4 separate regions of the Homo sapiens genome follow, and regions 1, 3 and 4 are each reported to be linked to region 2. Evidence: microRNA targets listed by miRTarBase, many of them from high-throughput screens and not tested one by one. Region 2 holds a microRNA gene; each other region holds the end of a gene's coding sequence.
What was found. Region 2 holds the annotated microRNA hsa-miR-4640-5p (UGGGCCAGGGAGCAGCUGGUGGG, at 1,703-1,725, opposite strand). A microRNA usually pairs through its seed, bases 2 to 8, with sites in the 3' UTR of a target mRNA and lowers its output. Matches are read on the target gene's strand: a 7mer-m8 pairs with bases 2 to 8, a 7mer-A1 pairs with bases 2 to 7 and ends in A, and an 8mer does both.

Region 1 (3,113 bases), not on the chromosome of region 2:
CCTTAAGTGATAACTGCCCTTTCTGTCATTCCCCAAGATAAAGAACAATCATTTGAATCAAGCAATTCATGAGGAGCGCGAGGCCATCATCGAGCTGCGCGTGCAGCTGCGGCTGCTCCAGATGCAGCGAGCCAAGGCCGAGCAGCAGGCGCAGGAGGACGAGGAGCCTGAGTGGCGCGGGGGTGCCGTCCAGCCGCCCAGAGACGGCGTCCTTGAGCCAAAAGCAGCTAAAGAGCAGCCAAAGGCAGGCAAGGAGCCGGCAAAGCCATCGCCCAGCAGGGATAGGAAGGAGACGTCCATCTGAGCAGCCTGCGTGGCCGTCTGGAGTCCGTGAGACTGAAAGGACCCGTGCATCTTACTGTAACCCGGGGGCCAGGCCGGCTCTCTCGCTGTACATTCTGTAAAGGTGTCTTCTCTTCTCAGACTCTTCCTCTGTCACACGTCTGACTCCTTCACGTCAGGCTCAGGTTCCATGGGAGGACGAAGCAGTGGACGCATTGTGGGCTTTAGGGACAGATGAGTTTTCCAGATAGTGTCAGCTTATTTGAAGATTAATTTTCTTTGTTAACTTAAAATAACTATTTTAACCCTTGAGTGGCTTCTTTTTAAACCAAAAACCGTCTTTCTTTGCTTTTTTATCACAGCAGAATCAGGATCTCTTTCTCATTCAAGGGGGGAACCACCCCAGGTCAGCGCTGCGCCTGCTGTGGCCGCCGCGAGCCACGCCCTCTGGGATCTCTGGTACCGTCACTCTTGCTTGTGCCTTCCACACCTTCTCGGTGCAGATCCCTATGGGGGAGCTGCCTCACGTTCTCTGACTGGTCAGAGCAGCGCCTGGTGGGTGTTCCCTGGCCCACTCTCCTCTCTCCTTCTGCAGTTCTAAACCACAGTCTATAAGCCCGAGTCACCAGGACGGCCTGTCTGGCCACAGACAGGGGCTGCCTGTGGAGCCTGCCCACCGGCCCCCGGCAGTGCAGTCCAGCGGGGAGGAGGCTGCCCGTTCCTGCCAGTTCCTCACTGCGGGGACCAGCAAAGGCCTTCTCACTGGGTTGGTCAAAGGTAGTCACCTTGGCCTGGTGCATCCACAGAGGATGTTGTTCAAACCAGAAATCTTTTAAACGACTGACCTTCCTTAAAAACAGAATGACTCCGATTGCTTGCTTGGGCTAGAATGTACACGTCTCCTTGCCTGAATAAGCCATATATATGCTCTTAAACAAAAGTTTGAAATTATCCATATCATCTCAGTGAACCTACTGGTGGACTCCCAATTGACAAGATTGAGCAATAGAAAAAAATTCCTTTCCTTTGAATGATAGCTGTGATTCACCCCACCCCATTTTCTTGTTTCTGGTCCATCCGATGAGACGGATGCTCTGATGCTCTGAGGCTTCTGGGAGGCTGGGCCCTGGAGGCAACGTGCTGCAGGCGCACTCTGTCAGAGTGAACAGCACCGCGAGACAGGCCAGGCTCGTGGCTCGGAAGACAAACCCCACACACACTCAAGGGGTCGAAAACAAACCCCACACGAGGGCTCTCACCTCCTTCTCCTAGGTAGTATTTATTTTCAGCACCTGTTTGATGCAGTTTTTAATCCTCTACCTATTGCACTGTTGTGACTCGTTGGCCATTATTTGATTTTTGTACGAAAAAAAGCTTTGTTATAGAAATCAGCATACTATTTTTTTAAATCTGGAGAGAAGATATTCTGGTGACTGAAAGTATGGTCGGGTGTCAGATATAAATGTGCAAATGCCTTCTTGCTGTCCTGTCGGTCTCAGTACGTTCACTTTATAGCTGCTGGCAATATCGAAGGTTCCTTTTTTGTTTGTGTAAACTCTAATTTCTATCAAGGTGTCATGGATTTTTAAAATTAGTATTTCATTACAAATGTCTCAGCATTGGTTAACTAATTTTTGCCAGGACCATTATTGATCAAGCAAATAAATTCAACAGCCATTTGGGAAAAAGAAAAGCTTCTAGTTTTTTTGTACACATTCTTTCTGTGAGGAGATTGAGTACTCTGCAGCTGGCGAGGAGTTGGTTGAGGCACTTCTTCAAGGCCAAGGGGGAACACAGTGTTTTGTTTCCAGCTCACTTTGTACCCCTCACCTCTGCAGACACGGGGAGAACCCCGGACCCCTGGCATGCATGCTGGCGGCGGCATGCCTCCCTTCCACAAGCCCATGCTGCTGCAGAGGGAGCCTGTGTTTGCAAAACCCAGTGGACTGGGCTGGGTCTGCTGTCTGAGCAGCTCCTGGCTCCGGTGGGAACTGCACACAAGTCCACTGGCCTGGCTTGGCCCCAGGCATTGCAATTGACAGACATTTGCATTTCATACGGTAAATGAGGACTCAGCACAGCCAACCATAATCAGCATGTCTGGGATAGACTGGTCTAGAATAAAAATGAAGTTTCCATTGCTTTGTTTGCTTTAAAAATTCCACAATTAAAATATCTGTCATTGAAAGCTTAGACAAACAGCTGACTTCTCTGTTTTGTGTAGTTAAATCTATAATGTTAAATTTATATAGCTAAATTCTCCTTGATGGAAAGTCTCAAACGCCCTGATGGGGTACATTTAGCATTGGGGATCTGGAGATACTGAGGTGTGAGACCTGAGGTCACCTCCCAAGATGGGCTCTAGTGCTGTGTGATCTTTTTTTTTTTTCACTGCAGCTGTTTCTGTGAAGAGCACATTGCTTGTTATGTATTAGGATATCTTAAGAACAAACACACCTTCTGCGTCCAGCCAGGCTGAGCAAGATGCAGCCTGGGCTTTCTGGAGCTCTCGATGGGGACCCGTGCCCAATTCCATGTGTTCAGCCTCAGCCCTGGCCCATGGTTCTCATGAGGGATAGAAGGAAAAGCCGGAGTCAATTAGCAGGCAGAGGCTTCAGCATAAGATCCCACAGCTTTTAGGGAAGGTGGGCAGTGCCCCCTGGAATGTTCTAGACTAGATCCCAGGAGACCCAGGAGACGTGATAGCAAGCCTGGGCAGAGGAGGGGGCAGAAAGCCCTTAAATGCCACATGTAGGGGCTCTTTTGCAGAGCAGGAAGAGTACTGCTGCCCGTCACATGCCGGGTCCTCCGAACCTGCAAAGTGATGGATG
Region 2 (3,113 bases):
GGACACTGCAGGGTTAGGAATGAAATCAGTTGTCAATTTCAGGGACTGGAGACTGGGCTACTCCAGGGCTTACCAGAGATGAAGGAGATTTCGCTGAAGAGTAACCAGGGCCCCGCAAAGAGGAAGCGGCACTGCAGAAAGCGAGCCACACGGCCGCCAAGGGGCACTGAGACAGCCCGGGCTCTGGGGTCCCCCAGGTTGCCCCCTAGGTTGTGGCGCATGGGCTCCCCCTCCCAGGCCATGGCAGGGCCACGCCGGAAGCGACATTCCACCCCGCCAGGCAGACGGGCTCCCAGCGTGTGCATGTTGTTACAGTGGACCTGGGGGGAAGGGAAGAGGGCACAGGGTCAAGGCTAGGAGTGGTGGGGGCACCCCAACGGCACCCTGCATGGCTTCAGAGCCCTCCTCGAGAGCCGGACTCACTCACCTGCATAGCCTGGAAGGCCCTCAGCCGGTCAAACTCAAACTCCATCTCCACATAGCCACTGGAGAAGCTGTGGTTGCTCCATCCCACATAGTCATAGCCTGGCCAGACCCGCAGCTCCTGACTCTTCCTAAAGTCATCCAGCCCCACCACACCATCTGCCAGCTGGCCCAGACCCCCATACTGCAGTCTGGAGAAGAGGGGACCAAGGAAGAGGAGGTTGGAAGGGAAGAGGGTCTTGACATCCAGGCATTCTGCTCCGCCACCCTCCGGCACAGTGGCATGGCCAGCCTGGCTCCCATCCACTAGTCCCATTCCCATCCCACCTCACACTCATGCAGCTGGCCCTTCTCCTCTCTCCACCCCACCCCAGCACTACAGGTACCTTGCAGGTCACATCCAGCACAAAGGCACCACCTCTAAGGGGCACCATTTCAATCTATGATGTGTATATTTATTGCAGCAATTTCCAACAATGTGTGTTAGCAAAGGGGTGCCTTTTTCATACAGTGTCATACGGGCTAGTGGTCACCCTAGTGCTACCCTTTGAGGCCCCACCTAACCCATCCCTCTTCTCAGCTCTTCCATCTCACTCCCCACCCTACTTACCAGCCCCCCTACACACACACACTCTCACACACACACACACACACACACACACACAGTCCTCCCTCCCACCCCAAACTCCATATCCTGCAGGGGCCTTTCTTACCCGCCCACGGTATGTCCGTCATAGGTGGAGTCGTTGAGGTACACGGCCTCAGATAAATACATTGTCTGCCCCACAGGGGCGGTGTAAGACAGGAGTCCATCTGGGGCAGGGTGAGAGGATGGGGGTCAGAGGCACTAAGGCTCCATCCCCCATCCCTGCATCAGGCCTGGGCAGGTTTCAGGTCCCTTCTTGTATCTCTCCACTGGCTCATTGGCATGGAGGAGACAATGCTGGCTAGCCCCCTCCTCAGAGTGACAGCTTCCCAGCAGGAGAAGGGATCCTGGATGCCCATTCTCCACACTCCCCACCCTCCAGTCCCCTGCTCAGGAAACAGATTCCCAGGAAGCTGAGCCACTCACCCCTCCAGAGGCAGCCATAGAGCTCTACCCGCAGACAGACGCTCATGACCCGGTCAGCCCGGGGGTAGAAGCGAACCAGTCGGGCAACCATGGGGGGCCCAAGGTCCTTCAGCACCACTCCCTCAGGGTCCTCATTGCCTGAGATCACCTGTGGGCCAGGAAACAGGGGGTGGGTGGGATGGAGTCCAGGTCAGATCTTACTTCCCACCCACCAGCTGCTCCCTGGCCCAGCCCACAGTGGCCACTTAGAGACCCATGAGGGGTGGCACCGAGCACACAGCACTGTGGGGCGCAGCCAGGCATGGGTGAAATGAAGATCTGCAGCTGAGACCTCTGGCTCTGTCGCAGCTCTGATGTTCCATCCTCAGACTTCAGGCTCAGCTGCCCTCTTCTCCTTGCCTGGCTCCATCCATTTGTCTCCAAGCCTATCATCCCATTGTGCCCAGATTCTCCCCAATCCTCACAGCCCTGCACCCCTGCCTCAGCTTCCCCTTCATTTCAGCCCATTCCCTCTGTTCATTCAGCAGAAGTTGGCTGAGTGCCCGCTCTGTGCCAGGCGCGTTCTCAGTGGTGAACGTCACTCCCCACCCTTGTAGGACTGAGATCCCAGCAGGGAAAACAGCTGCGAAGAACAAGAGGCAGGAAGTATGGACAGAGCAGTGAGGTGGGTGGCCAGAAAAGGCTCTCTAAGGAGGTGACACCTGGCAGAGAACTGAATGGAGTGAGGGAGAGCCTGTGGTTATTTAGGGGAGGAGCTTTGCAGGCACAGAGAAAATGTCCAGAAGCTGTGGGAACGAGCCCTGGCTTGTTCCAGCAACAAGAAGAAAGGCAGCGTGGCCAAGGAGGCGCCAAGAAACAAGTGATGCAGGCAGGAGCCAGGTCAGGCTGAGCATCCTGCACCAGCTAGGGACTCAGCTTTTGTTCTGGCAGAGTGGAAAGCCAGCATGGGGGTGTCAGCTAGGTGTGACGTATCTGATTTACATGCTCTAAGGTCCACTGGATGCCGCCCCCCCAGGTGGAGATTTGACTCCAGGCAGAAAAGGGCAGAAGCAGGGAGACGCGTTTGGCATCTACTGCACTCATCTAAGCTGGAGATGGCGGGCAGGTGGCCTAGGGCAGTAGAGGTGGAGTGGTGAGGAGTGACTGGACTCAGGAACACTATGGAGGTAGAACAGACGGGGCTGCTGATGCTTTGGAAGGAGGTGAGAGAAAAAAAGGAATCAAGGATATCATCTTAACTTATAGCCTAGGCAACCAGGCAATGGTGATACCACTTCCTGAGCTGGAGAATGCCAGGGGAGGAGCAGGTTTAGGCTGGGAATGGGAATCAAATTCAGCTTGGGAAGTTAAACGTACGTTTGAGATGCCTATTAGACATCTAGGTGGCTGGCTACAGTGCTTGTAATCCCAGCACTTTGGGAGGCTAAGGTGGGAGGATCACTGAGCCCAGGAGTTCAAGACCAGCCTGGGCAACACAGCAAGACCCCATCTATTAGAAAAAAAAAAAAAGACATCTAAGTGGAGAAATCCAAAAGGTGGCCAGGTTTACAATATTGTTTGGAGCTCAGCTGAGAGGCTTAGTCTGGAGATGATATAAACTGGAGAGTCGTCAGCGTAT
Region 3 (3,000 bases), not on the chromosome of region 2:
AGGCCTGGCCTCTGGGTGTTTTCACTGCCTAAATGCAGAAACTCTCCTTTATGTGGAAAATCAAACTGGCCGAGACCTTTAATATGCACAGGCAAATGCACAGGCACCTTCCAGCTACCTGAGGCAGCCTCTCCGGGCACCCCGGCCTGCAGACATGCGGTGTGACCCTCCACCTGCCAATCCAGGACCTCCCGCACCCAACCCCCCATCCTGATTCCCGGTCTCTTTCCTTCCTCTCCCTTCAGGTCACTGGGCTGTGGTGAGAGAAGGCCTCACGAACCCTTGGATTCCGGATAACTGGTCTTGGGGCGGGGTGGCTTCTGAACACTGCCCAGTGCTAGCCGAGTTCTACACTGAAAAGGACTGGAGCAAGAAGGATGCCCCTCGGAACGGCAGCGGGGTGGCCTTGGAGCGAAGTGAAGCCAACATCAAGCACGAGCGATGATGACACCAAATCCATGTGTCCACCCTGGGACCCAGGAGGGCACAGCCAAGGAATGAGCCCTGTGGGGTGACGCTTCAGGGCAGAGCTGCCTTTTAATTTTTATTCTCAGAGCATCAGCACTTGAGGCCTTGCCCCACGCCTTCTCTGTGGACCATTCAGGACCTCCAGTGGGGGTGGCGTGCCAGGCGCGTACCCCACCAGGTGGGCAAAGCAGAAACCTGCGGGGAGCGGAGACGCCTTTTATCTCTGGATGCCACAGACCTGAGCAGCATTGGGCTGGCTGTCCGCTGCTGACTGGATGGCAGCACAAAGACAATATGAGCAGAGGGAGGAGAAGAAGGGGTGCTCAGGCTGCGGGCCACAGTCCAGCAGCGCCAGAAGCACTCATTTCTGACCACCAGGCTATGACGTTCCTGCTGCGCATTACAGAAAGCTTTTAACTGTGATCAGGCACTCTGCTCAGATACATTGAGTGGCGATTTTTAGTTTTGTTTTGAAAAAATAAACAGATTAACCTGCCTCGCTGCAGTGAGAGCATGGGACAAGTCCGCCACAGCCCTCCCCCGCCCCCTTCCCCCGCCCCCCAACGCGCAGTGTGTATTTGCACCACGGCAGGTGCCTCTGTGTGGAGCTAGGGTCAAGCCCTGAGCAGCTTCACTTCCCCTGCGCCTTTTATGTCCCCACCTTGAGGCCTTGCAGAGGCGCCTCTCAAGGCCCCATCAGCTCGCCGGGACCTCTGTGAAGCCTCTCTGTCATCTCCCCTTCCCAGCCCCTCCTTCATCCCCTGCCTCCTTCACCAGCCTGGCTTTTGCCTGGAGCACTATTTGTTTAGTTCTCTTTGCAGGACAAGAATTCTCTCAGGGTGGTATCACCTCCTCCCTCCTCCCCACTCACTCCAGTTTTTAGCCCGGAGCCTCCTGTGGTTGACTATCAGGAATGTGTGCTGTGTCAGGATACATAGGAAGTTGACCTCGGGGTATCATGGAGAGTGTCCCTCCTAGTGGCTGGAGGTAGGGACAGTTGGTTGTGGGGCTGGAGAGAGGTTGTGGGGAGGAAGCGAGGATGCGTGCCTGCCACTAGGCATCTGCATCCCCGAGCCCAAGCCAGGAGGGATTTCCCTTAGGCAACACCATCCCAGGGAGATCTGCCACAATTTGCGTTTCACAGCTGAAGACGCTGAGGCTTAGAGAGCTCGACCTCCTCAAGGTCACACCACTGGGTAAATAGAGGGATGCAGACTCAGGTTTTGCTATGTGCTCACATTTCAACTTTATGCTTAACATGAATGGAAAAATATGAAAGTAAATAGTGAAAAGGTAAGTTATGAGCTTAGATTACCTAGATTATTCCAGTATCCCATGGAAGCTGAGGACTTATTCCGCTTTCCACACCGAACACTAAATGTGGACCAGTATCAAGAACCCTCCTGTCCCCACGCAGTGTAAACCCAGTGGCTTCTCTGACCTGGAGCTGATGGGCCGTGAAGGGGGCCTATTTTTCTCCAAAGGCCATCCTTTTGGGGCCACCTGGCTCCAAGAAGCATCGCTGGTCTTGGGGACGGGAAGGGAACCCTCTTCCAGGAGCTCTAAGGGTACTTGGGAATCAATTGTGTCCATTCTGAGGTCTCTCCAGTGGGAGGGCGGCAGCTCCTGTCCCTGGGTTCAGGCTGTGCTTCTGGAAGCATCGAAATGGGATGTCTGAGCCTTGAGGAAAAGCAGCAGGGTTAGCATTAAAGTCAAGAGGGGCAGCTCAGGATGCTACCAGGGAGCACATCGTTTCTGGTGCCTCATCTAAAGGTGAAACCTCCCCTACATTCACCAGCCGGATGTCCCAAATCCCTTTAGCCAGATTGCTTTTTGCAACCAAAGCTGTGGACAGAAAAGCCTCCTTAAGTGAGCTGAGGGGACAGGAAATCCAATCAGATGACCTTTGTGTTCGTAATCGGGCTTGAGCCAGAGGCTGGGGAGCTGAGTCCCAGCCAAACCTCACTGGCCCTTTTGCTTTTCACGCCCAGGGCTCAGTGGCCCAGGAAGTGTGCTGGGCAGCCTGTTCTTACTCCAGCTCAACCCATTGGGTGTTGGCTGTTTTTGGTTTTAGTTGTTGTTTTGTATTTTGTTGTTTTAATTAATAGGCTTTATTTGTAAGAGCAGTTTTATGTTTACAGAAAAATTAGGCACAAAGGGATTCCCATATCCCTCCTCTTCTTTGCATATTTCCCCCTCTAATTAGCATGTTGCATTAGCATGGCACTTTGTTACAACTGATGAACTTGTATTCATTATTAGCTACAGTGTTCATAGTTTATATTAAAGTTCACTCTTTGTGTTGTGCATCCTATGGGTTTTGACAAATGTAGAATGACATGTATCACCATGCTACAGAATCATTCAGAATAGTTCCTCTGATGTAAAAATGCCCTTGTGGTGGGGCATGGTGGCTCGAGCCCGTAATCCCAGCACTTTGGGAGGTGGAGGCGGGCAGATCATTTGAGGTCAGGAGTTCGAGACCAGCTTGACCAACATGGTGAAACCCCATCTCTACTAAAAGTACAAAAT
Region 4 (3,113 bases), not on the chromosome of region 2:
CACCCAGGCTGGAGTGCAGTGGCGCAGTCTTGGCTCACTGCAAGCTCTGCCTCCTAGGTTCATGCCATTCTCCTGCCTCAGCCTCCCGAGTAGCTGGGACCACAGGCGCCTGCCACCATGCTCAGCTAATTTTTTGTAGCTTTAGAAGAGACGGGGTTTCACCGTGTTAGCCAGGATGGTCTTGATCTCCTGACCTCGTGATCCGCCCGCCTCAGCCTCCCAAAGTGCTGGGATTACAGGCGTGAGCCACCACGCCCGGCCCTATAGACTTTTTAAAATCATGTTTACTATTTGTTATAGTAGAATTGGATCTAAGATATTAGTGCTAAATTTTTCACTCAGTGACAGAATGTGCCTAGTTATATATCTTTAGCGAATTAATTGAGTGAAAATGATAACATCTCTGTGATACTTAAATCTGGTCTTTTAAGCAACACGGAGGTAGTCACGTTTCCCGGAAATCCGAACACTTGAGTGTCAGACCACAGACTGCGTTGGAAGAAAACGAGACTCAGAAAGAAGTTCCACAGGACCAGCATTTGGAGGCACCTGCAGACCAGTCGAAAGGTCTCTTGCCTCCCTGAAGGACCTGTATACTGTGTATGCTGGCATTCACACTCTACTCACTGGCTGAATGTTGAGCTATTTTTAAACAGTTGAACTGTGTAAATGTTTCTTGATCTCTAAGGTATTATGTTTGCCTTCTCTTAGTTATTTCTGGGTTGTCACAAAGCTCAGTATCATGGTTTGACAGAAGCAGTTATGTGAACTTTTATGTTAGGACATTACTAAATAAAGAATTCCCTAGCTGCTTATAAAGTAAATTTACTTTGAATTGTAAATAACATGAAGAAACCTTTATAAAGATTGTTCAAATGGGACTCAATCTGACTAGGCTTGCTTTGATGTTTGTTAGTATGTGGGCTGGCTACATCTGATTCCCGGGTACATATTTCTTCTGATCCATCAGACTTATACGTGTACACATGTTGTGGAACCTTGGCTAGCTGGTTTTGTCTGCAGAGAATCTTTGTACTTCTTGCTATAGAACGATTATCTCTCCACTTGAGAGGCCAAGCTGACTTGCGCTTTGTGGTAAGAGTGAGGACCTGTCATTGCTGATACACAAAGACCAAAACTGTAACTTTAATGTCATGGATTGAGTGTGCTGGAGACAGTTAACATAGGCCTGCACAGACTAGGCTGTTCAGTAAATACTTGTTGAATGAATGAGTGAACGAATGGTTATATCCAGCTAAAGACTGGATTCATATGGTGTAGATAACAGGATTGCCAAGAAAGGAGGCAGCTAATTTAGGTGATGCTCTCCACCAGCATCCACCTGCCTCCCTGGGGCCAAAGTGTGCCTACAAGTCCTTATCAACTTCCCTGCCTTCCTCGTTTCCCCAGGTTTTACTAAATACATGAAATATCCCTCTGAGATTGCAGCCTTTGTATATGTGGTCAAGCCAGTGGTTTTTAGCTGTTAGTAGTAAGCTGCTTCAGAAATTCCCTATTTTAAAACTCATGTAGATTTTCTACCCAGTGATTCTTTGTGTATGCTCTCATCTCTCCTGGTACACTGTGAGGCAGGTCCACATCTCACAGTCTGTATATAGTACACATCCATGCACGTGGGTGCTTGGTTCATGCAGGTGAATGAATACATTAGGCAAAAGCAGCTCTCAGCCATGCTGCTTCCCCCTCGACCTTTATCACTGTTTCACAACTGCTTGCATTTGGAGAATGCTTTACTTTTCCGTAGGGAAGTAAATTTCATCCATTCAGAGACATTACACAACCATTGAGACCAAACATCGGGCCAGACCTTGGGAAGAGGACTTAAAAAGCAGGTGAAAGACACAGTCTATTCTCAGAGGAACAATTGAGGGGTCACTCATCTCTTTAAACCTTAGGTTTCTGGTTTTTTAAGGGCAGGTTTTTTTTGCCACAATGATGAATATTTAAAAAATGTTTTTTTCCTTCATGTCTGGATTGATGTCCCATTTTTGCTATTTTTGTTTGTTTTCCTCCTCTGTAGATTTTTAATTTTTTTTTTTTTTTTTTTTTTTTTTTTGCGATGGAGTATCACTTTGTTTCCCAGGCTGGAGTACAGTGGAGCCATCTTGGCCCACTGCAACCTCCGCCTCCCAGGTTCAAGCAGTTCTTCTGCCTCAGCCTCCCAAGTAGCTGGGATTACAGGTGTATGCTATGACGCCCGGCTAATTTTTGTATTTTTAGTAGAAACGGGCTTTTAACCATGTTGCCCAGGCTGATCTCAAACTGCTGGCCTCAAGTGATCCACCCATCTCAACCTCCCAAAATGCTGGGATTACGGGTGTTAGCCACCATGCCTGGCCTTAATTTTTTTTTTTTTTAATTTTGTTTTAGGAGATGGGGGTCTCACTGTGTTACCCAGGCTGGGTGCAGTGGTGCATACCCTGCCGCAGTCTTAACTCCTGGGCTGAAGCCATCCTGGCTCACTTCCCGAATAGCTAGGACTATAGGCATGTGCCACCACGCCTGGCTCTTTAACATTTTTTTTGTTTGTTTTTTTTTGTAGAGATGGAGTCTTGCTATGTTGCCCAGGCTGGCCTGGTCTCAAACTCCTGGCCTCAAGCGATCCTCCTGCCTCAGCCGCCCAAAGTGCTGGGATTACAGGCCTGAGCGACCGTACTGGGGCTGAAGACTTTTAAAGAAGTTATTTGTTGCATAATTCTTTAAAAAAATTATACATGCACATGGTTCAAAACTTAACAGTAAAAAGCTAGTCTCCCACCCCTGTTCCCCAGCCACCCTTTTCCCCTTCCCTGAGGCCATCACTATCACCATTTCCTTGTGCGCTCTTCCAGAAATATTTTGGGCATGGACAGGACACTATGCATACTGTTCTGTACCTTGCTTTTCTAGTTACTATGTCTCAGAGATCCACTGTGATTTAATCAGTGCCCGATTGAAGAAAATGTTCTTTGTTTTACTGTGTTGCAAATGGGCTGCTAGAGTTATGGGATGCTGGATCAAGGAGCAGATCATTTTGAGTTTTGATATCTTCGTCCATAGAAATTGTGCTTAACTATACTCTCATAGCAATGTATGAGAATGCGTTCCCCTAC

Region 1: the mRNA of RALBP1 is a reported target of hsa-miR-4640-5p. Seed matches in the 3' UTR shown: 8mer at 849-856.
Region 3: miRTarBase lists EEPD1 as a target of hsa-miR-4640-5p. Seed matches in the 3' UTR shown: 7mer-m8 at 2,434-2,440 and 7mer-A1 at 2,467-2,473.
Region 4: miRTarBase lists MRPS23 as a target of hsa-miR-4640-5p. Seed matches in the 3' UTR shown: 7mer-A1 at 2,128-2,134.

The regions. Positions count from the first base shown.
Region 1 is chr18:9,535,634-9,538,746 of GRCh38, forward strand. RALBP1 (ralA binding protein 1) reads left to right here. Exons shown (of 10, transcript NM_006788.4): 10 at 38-2,481. The coding sequence ends at 304. Among named protein-coding and RNA genes, the nearest start is that of RALBP1, 62 kb to the left of the region's middle.
Region 2 is chr6:30,889,503-30,892,615 of GRCh38, reverse strand. MIR4640 (microRNA 4640) reads right to left here and starts at 1,733; the gene lies at 1,644-1,733. It overlaps DDR1 (discoidin domain receptor tyrosine kinase 1), which reads right to left. Exons shown (of 18, transcript NM_001297654.2): 5 at 1,496-1,643; 6 at 1,137-1,236; 7 at 428-614; 8 at 74-320.
Region 3 is chr7:36,298,762-36,301,761 of GRCh38, forward strand. EEPD1 (endonuclease/exonuclease/phosphatase family domain containing 1) reads left to right here. Exons shown (of 8, transcript NM_030636.3): 8 at 246-2,777. The coding sequence ends at 445. Among named protein-coding and RNA genes, the nearest start is that of MATCAP2, 67 kb to the right of the region's middle.
Region 4 is chr17:57,837,254-57,840,366 of GRCh38, reverse strand. MRPS23 (mitochondrial ribosomal protein S23) reads left to right here. Exons shown (of 5, transcript NM_016070.4): 5 at 432-3,113. The coding sequence ends at 584. Among named protein-coding and RNA genes, the nearest start is that of MRPS23, 11 kb to the left of the region's middle.